Regions from separate parts of the Homo sapiens genome. Here region 1 is linked to region 2. The links come from fine-mapping of genetic effects on gene expression. A gene starts in region 2. The other region holds a variant in brackets. All regions are shown on one strand. Distances are between the middles of the regions. Region 1 holds the start of GCSIR (GPR55 cis regulatory suppressor of immune response RNA). Region 2 holds the start of FBXO36 (F-box protein 36).

Evidence for each region.
Region 1: its variant is fine-mapped to the expression of FBXO36 in visceral fat (GTEx, PIP 0.92).

What each region holds. Positions count from the first base shown.
Region 1 is chr2:230,885,884-230,891,255 of GRCh38, forward strand. GCSIR (GPR55 cis regulatory suppressor of immune response RNA) reads left to right here and starts at 663. Exons shown (of 4, transcript NR_038238.1): 1 at 663-1,086. RefSeq lists an enhancer at 26-95. The variant T/TA (reference allele first, on the strand shown) is at 2,980.
Region 2 is chr2:229,920,122-229,925,493 of GRCh38, forward strand. FBXO36 (F-box protein 36) reads left to right here and starts at 2,382. Exons shown (of 4, transcript NM_174899.5): 1 at 2,382-2,488. The coding sequence starts at 2,393. It overlaps TRIP12 (thyroid hormone receptor interactor 12), which reads right to left and starts at 1,888. Exons shown (of 42, transcript NM_001348323.3): 1 at 1,759-1,888. RefSeq lists enhancers at 206-305, 943-1,443, 1,444-1,944, 2,601-2,660 and a silencer at 1,381-1,770.

The DNA of each region.
Region 1 (5,372 bases), 970 kb after region 2:
GCCTTGCATTAGGCCCGGGTTTGGCCAGAAGAATAGAGCAGTTGGAAATGTTAAGTTGACATAAATAGGAAGCTCTGTAACCTCGTGCAAGTGTTGTCTTGGAAACCAGAGCCTGGGCGGTCTCCATGGAAACCGTGCTCAGCCTTCTGCCTGAAGGAGTTACCACCCACTGGTGCTGGAGTGTTACTTATCAGGGACCTCAGAGCTCCAATAACTGCTTAGGGAATGATGATGGACTGGTCCCTGCCCACCCTGGCCATGTCAGGTGTGGGGCCCTGGGCACCTCCAGCTCTCTGCCTGGGAAAGAAAAAGAGCCCATTTCCATGGGACGTGCCCTCATGGGGAGGCACAGCAGACCACCCAAGGCAGCACATGCAGTGTCCCCGAAGTAAGGAGGGAGTCCTGTGTCCCGAGGTCCCGGGGATCTGGACTCTGCCATTGTCCCCTGGTGCATCTGTACAGCTGTGGTGGGCTAACATCATCTCTGGGCTCCAACTTGCCCTTCTGTAAAATGGGGAGTTTGGACCAAGTCATTCTGAAGGTCTTTTCCAGCTTTAATGACACGTGTTTTGCATGTGACCTGGCAGCACAGGGTTCAGAGGAGGGAGAGATCAGAGTGACTAGTGCAGGCTTCCTGGGGAACCATTTGAGCTTTGAAGGTGGGGAAGAGGAATGTCAGAGAGTGGGCAAAATACAACAGGAAAGGTCCAAATTCACCCTCTGAGGGCCCGGGGCACGGGGGCAGCCTGCTCTCCTCCTGGGGCCCTGTTCCCTGTGGGGACTGGAAGAGAGGCTTTGAGTCTAGGGCCTGGGGCAGCCAGGACTGACGGGGGTGCAGTCCTAGAAGGGTCGGCAGTCACGGTGGCCCACCATGGCATCTCCGTATCCTTGCTGCATGCTGCACCCACTCCAGCTGCCAGAGCACGGAGGCAGAGACGTGGGAGCCGATGAAGGTCGCACGCCAGCCTCCCACCTGTGAGACAAAGGGCCCTGTCACTGGAAGCCACGTCCAGCCTGGCCCCGCAGGAGCCAGGGCTCTGCGCCTAACGGAGGACTGATGGGAAAGGGAAGGCTGGCAGCAGTGAGGTAATGGGGTGGGGGGTGGGGGTGGGAGGCAGGGGGAGGTGGGGAGGACAGGGAGGGGAGGGAGGGAAGGGGAGGGACTTTAGCCAGCACGCTTGTCCCACACTGAGCGAGTGCCCACAGTGTTCAAGCAGTCAGTATGCCAGCAGTTTTTCATTGATTACTTTTGTTCGTGTCTCGCGTTATCTCTGGGGTGAGTATGAATTTCATAGCCACAAACTCAGGTGTCCAAAGTATCTTTATTGGTATCTTTATTTTTCTATAATAGTGTGTTTTGTGTAATAATCTAGTTTTCAAACCTTCCCTTAGTCTAGTGGCAGAATGTGTAATCTTGATATTTTCTAGGTAAACTCGGTCATCACTTCAGTTTGCCCTTTTCAAAGATATTAATTTTTGCCCTCCCTTCCCCACCAGGGGCCAATCATCTGAATCACGTTCCTGTATTCAGGATTTGCCCCTCCAAAACAGTTTTGATGGGAGACACCAGCCACCTACTATTATGCAGCCATGCACCACATAACGACGTTTCAGGCAACAATGACTGCACATACCACAGTGGTCCCGTAAAATTACAATGGAGCTGAAAAATTCCTATTGCCTAGTGACGTCACAGCCATTGTAAGGTCAGAGTGCAACACATCACTCATGTGTTTGTGTTGATGCTGCTGTAAACAAACCTACCGCACTGCCAGTCATATAAAAGTATAGCCCATACAATTATGTGTAGTACTTAATACTTAATAATAATAAACAACTATGTTGCTGGTTTACGTATTTACTACACTGTGTTTTTAATTGCTAATAAGAGTGTACTCTTTTTAGTTATTAAAAAAAAAGTTAACTGTAAACAGACTCAGCAGATCCTTCAGGAGGTTTCCAGAAGAAGGCATTGTCATCATAGGAGGTGACAGCTCCATGCATGCATTGCCTCTGAAGTCCTTCCAGTGGGACAGGATGTGGAGGTGGAGATGGTGATACTGATGGTCCTGACCCTATGTAGGCCTAGGCTCATGTGTGTGTTAGTGTCTAGTTTTTAACTAAAAAGTTTAAAAGTTAAAAAAAAAATTTTTAATAGAAAAAAAGGGGGACTGGGCGTGGTGTAATCCCAGCACTTTGGGAGGCCGAGGCAGGCGGATCACCTGAGGTCAGAAATTCGAGATCAGCCTGGCCGACATGGTGAAGCCCCGTCTCTACTAAAAACACAAAAATTAGCTGGGCGTGGTGGTGCGCACCTGTAATCCCAGCTACTTGGGGGGCTGAGGGAGGAGAATAGCTTGAACCCAGGAGGCGGATGTTGCAGTGAGCCGAGACACACCATTGCACTCCAGCTTGGGTGACAAGAGGGAGACTCTGCCTCAAAAAAAAAAAAAAAGAACAAAAGACTAAGGGTACAAAGAAAATACTTTGTGAAGCTCTATGTGTTGGTGTTTTATGCTAAGTATTATTATAGAAAAGTCCAAAGGTTTTTAAAAATTGAAAAGTTTATAAAGGAAAAAAAAGGTACAGTAAGCTAAGGTTACATTACTATTGAGGAAAGAAAAAATCTTCCGTAAATGTGGTGTAGCCTAAATGTACAGCGTTTACAAAGTCTACAGCAGTGGTCGGTAATGTCCCAGGCCTTCCCATTCACTCACCAACCACTCACTGACTCACCCAGAGCAACCTCCAGTCCTGCAAGCTCCATTCATGGTAAGCGCCTTACACAGGTGTACCATATTTTTATTTTTCCTACCATATTTTGAACGATATTTTTCTATGTTTAGATACACCATTGTGTTGCGATTGCCTACAGTATTCAGTACAGAAACATGCTGCACAGGCTTGTGGCCTAGGAGCAACAGGATAACCCGTATAGCCCAGGTGTGCAGTAGGCTATGCCATGTAGGCTAACATGTA[T/TA]AGCCCAGGTGTGCAGTAGGCTATGCCATGCGGGTTTGTGTAAGTGCACCCTACGATGTTCACACAATGAAACTGCCTGACAATGCATTTCTCAGGACATATCCCTGTTGTTAAGCTGAATCTGTTTTTCCCAGTGCCCCTTGGGGCTGGAGTCAAGCATGTGACCAGGCTCAGCCAATCAGATGTTTCCTCTCTGTATTAGTCCATGTTCACACTGCAATGAAGATTCTACCTGAGACTGGGTAATTTAGAAAGGAAAGAGGTTTAATTGACTCACGGTTCCACGTGGCTGGGGAGGCCTCTGGAAACTTACCATCGCGGCCGAAGGCGAAGGGGAAGCAAGGCACGTGTTAGTCTCACATGTGGCAGGAGAGAGAGAGAGAGCACGGCGGGGAAGTGCCAGACACTTATCAAACAACCAGAACTCATGAGTGACGACTCATGGGAGAAACTGCCCCCCGATCCAATCACCTCCCACCAGGCTCCTCCCTTGATGCGGGGATTACAATGTGAGATGAGATTTGGGTGGGGACAAAGAGCCATACCATATCACACCCAGACCATGCCATAGGGACAAGTGACTCAGGAAGGGGGACAGTGAAAAATGCATCCTGGTAGAGGGGACAACAGCAACACAGAGTCTCGTGGGCATCAGGAAGGTGGTGGCATCATCTCCACATTCTGGAGCCCGCGGTTCCCTTTGTGGTCTCCCAATTGCTGAAGTGGTTTCTCCAGCCCACCCAGTGACTCTGAGCCACCCAGTGTCCCGTCAATCAATTCCTTTCTTCCTAAATTCACCAGAATTGTTCCCAGTGTTTGTGTCACAGTTTTATTGAACACGGGAGCCTTGTGGGGTGTAATCCGAAAACAATTCTTTCTCCCACTACCTTTTCAAGCCTGGTCGGTGGGTTGGGTTCTCCTCTGACCTTGGATGAAATTGAAGGTAGGTTTCTTGGTTTTTCTGGTCCATCCAAGATAATAAAAATCCCTTGGGTAACTTTTATTCACACAAATCCAATTTCAGTAATTACAACATCTAACTATCAAAACAGTTGAAACTCCAGATGGCATTTGAAGTTAAAACCACTCCCTTGCCCCATCCCAGACCTGCCCACATGGGAAGCCTACAAGGCGCGTGGGGAGCTTGGCGGGTTTCTCCTCCATGCCCCTGCCTCATGCTTCTACTTTTCCTCCCCTTCACTAGGCTCCTCGGCGCCTCCAAGTTTGGGACAGTAGCGTGAGGGCTTGGCGTCGGGCGTCGGAGCAGGAGAGGTCACTAGTTGTCTTAGTCGGTGTGTGTTGCTGTAAAGGAACACCTGAGGCTGGGGAATTTATAAGGAAAACGGGCTTATTTGGTTCACGATTCTGCTGGCTGGAAGACTGGGCATCTAGTGAAAGCCTCGGGCTGCTTCCACTCGTGGCAGAAGGCGAACAGAGCTGGCGTGAGATCACACGCAGAGATCATGTGGAGAGAGAGGAAGCAAGAGAGACACGGGAGGCAAAGGTTCTTTTTAACAACCAGCTCTCGTGGGAACTAACGGAGTGAAACTCACTTGCCTCTGTAGGAGGGCAATAATCTATTCATGAGGGTTCCAACCTATGACCAGAACACCTCCCATTAGGCCCCACCTCCAACATTGATCCAAACTGTAGCACTAGCATCACCAGTTCACCCTCCCTCAGGTGGATGCTCCATGAGAGTCCCTGGTCCCCGTCCTCACCACTAGCTGCACCTCAATGCAGGCAAACTCTCCCTCAGCTTCATTTTCTTGGACTGGATCTAAGTAACTCAGACCAGCTTCTGAAACATTCACACACCCTTTGATGCTACAGAATCCAGCAGAATGGGTTATTTGCTGGCACACACCTCTTCTTGTCCTGTGCTCCAAGCAACAAGCAGGCAGCTCCAGCCACAGCCTCTCACTACTTGCTTCCCCAGGGGCTTGGCCCCCACCCAGTCCACAGGGCTCCCTTCCAAATTACTCCCAGGCCCCATGTCCAGGTCTCCCAGCAGTCTCAGTGAAGCCCCTCTCACTAGGCATAAGGCAGAGTGGTGGTGCGCCGGACTCTGTGATCATTCTCTCCTTAGAAATGTTCTCTCTGGCTGGCACTGTGGCTCCCCCCTGTAATCCCAGCAGTTTGGGAGGCCGAGGCACGAGGATCACTTGAGGCCAGGAGTTCAAGAACAGCCTGGGAAACACAGGCCATTTAAATTTTTTGTCTGTACAAAAAAATTTAAAAATCAGCTGGGCATGGTGATATGTACCTGTAGTCCTGGCTACTTGGGAAGACTGCTTGAGCCTGGGAGCTCGAGGCTGCAGTGAGCCATGATCTCACCACTGCACTCCACCCTGGGTGACAGAGTGAAACTGTCTCTAAAAAAGAAAAAAAAA
Region 2 (5,372 bases):
TTTCTAACACAACTAGGACCTTTGTTCTGAGCGTCGTTTTACCCCACTCAATAGCTCTTTCAACTTTCTACCCCGTATTTTTTGTTTTGTTTTTAAAGAGGAGACTCTGAGACTCAACTTGCTAGGTCTTTAAAAAATGAAATGCCAAAAATACCTAATGAGACTCTCGAGAGGAACATAAAGTTAAACACATCACTAAAGGGCCTACAAAACGGAGTAAAGCCCGGAGATCGGGTGATCTGGCAGCCCAGGCAAGATCGAGGACCGCGACTAGGAAAGGAGACAGCAGGAGAGCAGTTAGACGTCCACTTAGAACGGATTCACTGCGCTATTAACCGTACCCGCCTCCCCCCGCACCGGCCCAACCTTTACACACAAACACATTCCCTCCCCCAATTAACTAAAGAAGCAATTAAACTATGCCCACCACCAGACTCGATGCTTAGGCTAAACCTCCCCCAAAGTAAAACAGCATTATCAAAAAAACACAACATTTGTCTTAAGGGTTTGGAAGCTGCCCCTTCCGTTATCTCCTCACCACGTAAGGTAACCAATTCCCTCCTGTCCCCCACCAGGAGTTCAAAGTGTGATTTCCCCCCGATTTACATGTGTTTTTATGTTTTTCCGCATTTTTCCGTCTAGGAAATGAAGGATTTCTTATTCTGAGGAAGGGAGAGACGCCGAGGAAGACAGGATTTGAGGTTTTACTACCTTCGTTATTCGAACTCCCCTCTAACTTGTTCCTGTACTAGAAACCCACTCACTATGGAGAAGGAAGGAGAGGGGCTGAACTGATGGACAAACGTTGTAAATAATAGGTTTTATGTAATCCACATATAAATAAATTAATCGCCTGACTCGCTCTGAATGCTAATACGATTGGGGTGACAATTGGCCCACCTCCCTCCCCCAAGTCCTAGTTAAACCCACCTACCACCAATTTCCATTCTGATCTATTTAAAAGGATACTCTATTCCTCTCAGTCAAGTTTCTCGGCTTCTTTAGGCCTCCCTGCATGCCCCCCTCGTCATCATCCTCCCTCAGCCTCAACTTCCCACGGCTTAAAAAACTGCCCCGCGCAGACCCCGTCTCCGGGCTCGCCCTCCCTCAACCGTCCCTCGCCGTCCCCCTGGGCAGGAAACCCCTTACTGCGGTCTAAAGTCTCTCTGGCCTCTCCCTTCTCTGACCCTCGCTTCCCACAACTGTTGTCACTGGAGCTGCTTCCTAGTTTCCATTTCCGGGCCGTCCACGGCCCCGGAGCCTCCCCTTTCCCGATTTCCGGGCCCCTCGTCCCATTTCCGGGGAACCCTTGCCGTCTTCACACCCCCCACCTGCACTTCCGGCCCCCCACTTTCTCTCTTCCCAGACACCCTCCAAGCTCCAAAGCCCACTTCCGGCCCCCCTTGGTCCCCGCCGAGCTCCCCAACACCCGCAAGCCTTACCCCGGTTCTGTGAAGGGCCCTCCTCATTGCGGGAAGCCGGAGGAGGGACCCAGCGACCCCTACCTCCCGCCAGGCCCCGGTCCCTCCGGCCGCGGCCGCCCTCGAGCGTCTCTCCCGTCCACCCCCGGCCCGGTCCTTCCGCGGCCCCGCCGCCGCCGGCGCCGGGAGCAGGCCAAGCGGGGGCCGAATCGCGGCGATGACACAACCGGGCTTCCTGGGACTTTCTGTTCCAGCTCCTCCCCCCGCCCCCCCAACCCCTCAGCTGGCCCCCTCCCCCAAGGCTTGCCCCCGCCGCCCAGAGCTGCGCCCCAATTACCTAGTTAGGCCCCAAAGTCTCCGGTCCGGACTCGGTGGCGCGGCAGTAACTTCCACTAGCTCCCCCCACCCCCCCCAGCGGCGCGGCGGCGGCGGCTCCGGGTTCCTTCAATTATCAGCTGAGCCGCAGCACCGCGCCCGGCGTGCGCCTCCGCCCGTGCCGCCTCCCTCCCCGCCTGCTCTGACACCCTCGGGGAACTACTTTGTCCTCGGGCTCCGGTTACGGGCTCGTCCGCGGGACCGGCACCGCTGCCTACTGGCGGCCCATCACATCGCCCCTCCCTCCCACGCCTCCCGGCTCGACTCTCTCAGCAGCCTCCGATCTCCGCCCGATCCCTTCGAGGGACCAGGAAGGGGACTGTGGAGATCTACTTGGTATCCCTCCGCCGGGGTCACCCCCTCCCCTCCGTGGTAGCAGGAACTAATTCCCCCTCGGGTCACCCGGGACCTGGAGCTGGAAATTTCACGGATCAGGGTTCCCTAAGACCCTTGGAAGAGGGGACGATCGCCCCAAGTTAGAAATCCTTCTGCCAGCTCATAAGCGTGGTTCAATTTAAACTAGGGTTTTGGCCCCTTGACCCCAACCAAGCCCCGCCCCTTCCTGGTTGTCTTAGCGACGGCGGTGGCGTCCCAAGATGGCGTCGTGGCTGCCGGAGACTCTCTTTGAAACTGTAGGACAAGGCCCGCCGCCTAGCAAAGACTATTACCAGTTACTGGTCACCCGGTCTCAGGCAAGTGCGAGCCGCGGTTTACCCTCTCTCCTAACTCCCTACCTGGCCCGGTTGGGGCCCGGGACGCAGGCTGTGCTAGGCCAAGAGCAACCGTAGCCCGCCGGAAGCGCCCAGTCCCGGCTCCGCGCCGGGAGATTTTCCTCGTCACCTCGGCCTCCTCGGTCCGACGGCCCGCGTGTCCCTGCTCTCCCCGAGCCCGGCTAGTCCCTGGCAAGCCTTCTCTGCCTCCCCGCGGTGCCGCGTGCTCCTTTCCCGCCACCCCGGCTTCTTACCCGTAGAGTTTCCTCCGCGCGAAGAGGAAAACGGGCGTCTCCGGCTTGCGTGCGGCCTCACCTCAGCGTGAGAAGGAGGGAAAGAACGACTCAGCCAAGTGTCCCAAGGAGGAGCCGGCTAGGGAGGGGAAAAGGAGATTGCCTCTTTTCCAGGATAGGAATTAATCATGGAGAATTTTATAAATCTCTTTGTGGCCTTTACGCGTGCCACGGCCACATCAAAACTTAGTTATTTCTAGTAGCAACTGACGATTGGGAGCTCTTACCTTTTGGAGTCCCTTCTATCCCATTGAAAGTGTGCGGGTGGTGGTATAAAAATGTTTCAGCTGCTCTGCGCTTCAGCCCCACCCATAATGACATCTGCTCCACAACAATAAGACCGAGGATTATATTATCTCCAAAGTAACCATCGGCCTATTTTTATGCCTACTTTGGTTATTGAAGGTGGGCTTTTGGATGATTTACTGTGTCCATGAAATTCTCAACTTGAGCGGGGCCTCCATTGGGAAGACGTTTCTAATCCTGGCTGAGTTTACGCCTGTCACTGAGTTATTCATGCACCCTGCCCTTTCAATAGATACTATTCCTATAAAATGAAATTTAGAAGTTTGTATATATTTGTTTTGGTGTGCATATTGATCATTCCCTCAGTTTTTCCAGGAGCCCTTAAACAAAATAGGTAATGAGTTAATTTTTTTATATTTTTGAAAGCATCTTTTAAAATATAAATGTTAATATATATTTTTTAATTTAAGATTTAGAAATATTACAAATGTAAAATCAGCCTGTCCAAAAAAAATTTTTTTTAAAACAGTACTGCTCCTTGCGGAGCAGGGCTAATTCATAGGCAGTGGGCCCAGGGTCAGACTCAAATTTTTAATTAAACTGTTCTTAGGGGGTTTTGCACATTTAGTGATGTATGAAATACTGAAAGGTATCCTTTTCTGTACTTTTTTTTTGGTGTTGTTTTTTTTTTTTTTTTTTTTTTTTGAGACGGAGTCTCGCTCTGTCGCCAGGCTGGAGTGCAGTGGCGCGATCTCGGCTCACTGCGACCTCGTTTCACCATGTTGGCCAGGATGGTCTCGATCTCTTGATCTCGTGATCCGCCTGCCTCGGCCTCCCAAAGTGCTGGGATTACAGGCGTGAGCCACCGCGCCCGGCCTTGTACATTTTTTAAACGGATTATTGATTTTTCCATTTGTTTTAAGATTTGTTTGTTTATTTATCGAGAGGGAGTCTCCCTCTGTTGCCCAGGCTGGAGTGCAGTGGCGCGATCTCAGCTCACTGCAACCTCCGCATCTCCTGGGTTCAAGCGATTCTCCTGCCTCAGCCCCCCGAGTAACTGGGATTACAGGCGTGCGCCACCACACCCAGCTAATTTTTGTATTTTTAATAGAGACGGGGTTTCGCCATTTTGGCCAGAGTGGTCTCCAACTCCTGACCTCAGGTGATCCAGCTGCCTCGGCCTCCCAAATTGCTAGGATTATAGACTTGAGCCACCGAGCCTGGCTGGCTTTAAGATTTATGATCCTAACATTTCTTCACCTCCTAACATGAGTGGTCAAAAATATAATCTGTTCTAATCTTACATGATTTTCTATTTTTATCTACCTCAAGTAAGTTAGAATGTTTTAATTTTTACAGCCTTTAAAAATTTGTCTTTTTTTGCATTTTCTTTCCCCTGAAGGTCTGGTATTTTACAAGTATGCTTCATTTCTCTCATTTGTAAGCCTCACCAGGCTGAGTATCTTGTTACCTTTTTATTTTAGTAAATTATCCTTAGGAGTGCTCCCTGGCATTCGGCTTCCTAAAGAATAATTCTGTTGTTGGTGTTCTTCAGACTTTGCTCTCAAGTCTAACTTAGGCGCATGCCTTCCTCTAACTACTCTTTTTTTTTTTTTCTTTGAGGCAGCGTCTCGCACTGTCGCCCAGGCTGGAGTGCAGTGGCTCAATCTCAGCTCACTGCAAGCTCCGCCTCCTGGGTTCACACCATTCTCCTACCTCAGCCTCCCCAGTAGCTGGGATTACAGGCGCCCGCCACCACGCCCGGCTAATTTTTTGTATTTTTAGTTGAGATGGGGTTTCACCGTGTTAGCCAGGATGGTCTCTATCTCCTGGCATTACAGGCGTGAGCCACCGCGCCCGGCCCTAACTACTCTTTTTTAAGAAATCTTTCCCACCATCCCTTCAGTGTTCTTAATTTTTCTTTTTCTTTCTTTATTTTTATTATTTATTTATTTATTTTTTATTTTTTGCAAGTGAAAAACTCTCCTTTATCTCAGGTTCTGTCAGTTACATATATATAAAATCCTAAATTCTGATCCATTTTCTTTTTTAAGCATGCTGAATAAATCCACTACACTTCTACCAGTGAGAGTTAATCTCCAAGCTAATTAATTCACCCTCTTTTTAAAGTAAAATTTGTTGTAAAAAATGGCATGCCAAAAAAATATACTTTTCAGTCAACTGCCTTGAGAATATGCTATTTTCTAACCACAAGACAATTTTTCTGAGTCTCAGCACAGGAAACCAAACATCCAGTAAGAGGTGGCCTGACATAAATAAGTACTAAAAGACTAGCATTAAAATATGTTTTATAAGATAGATTTTTT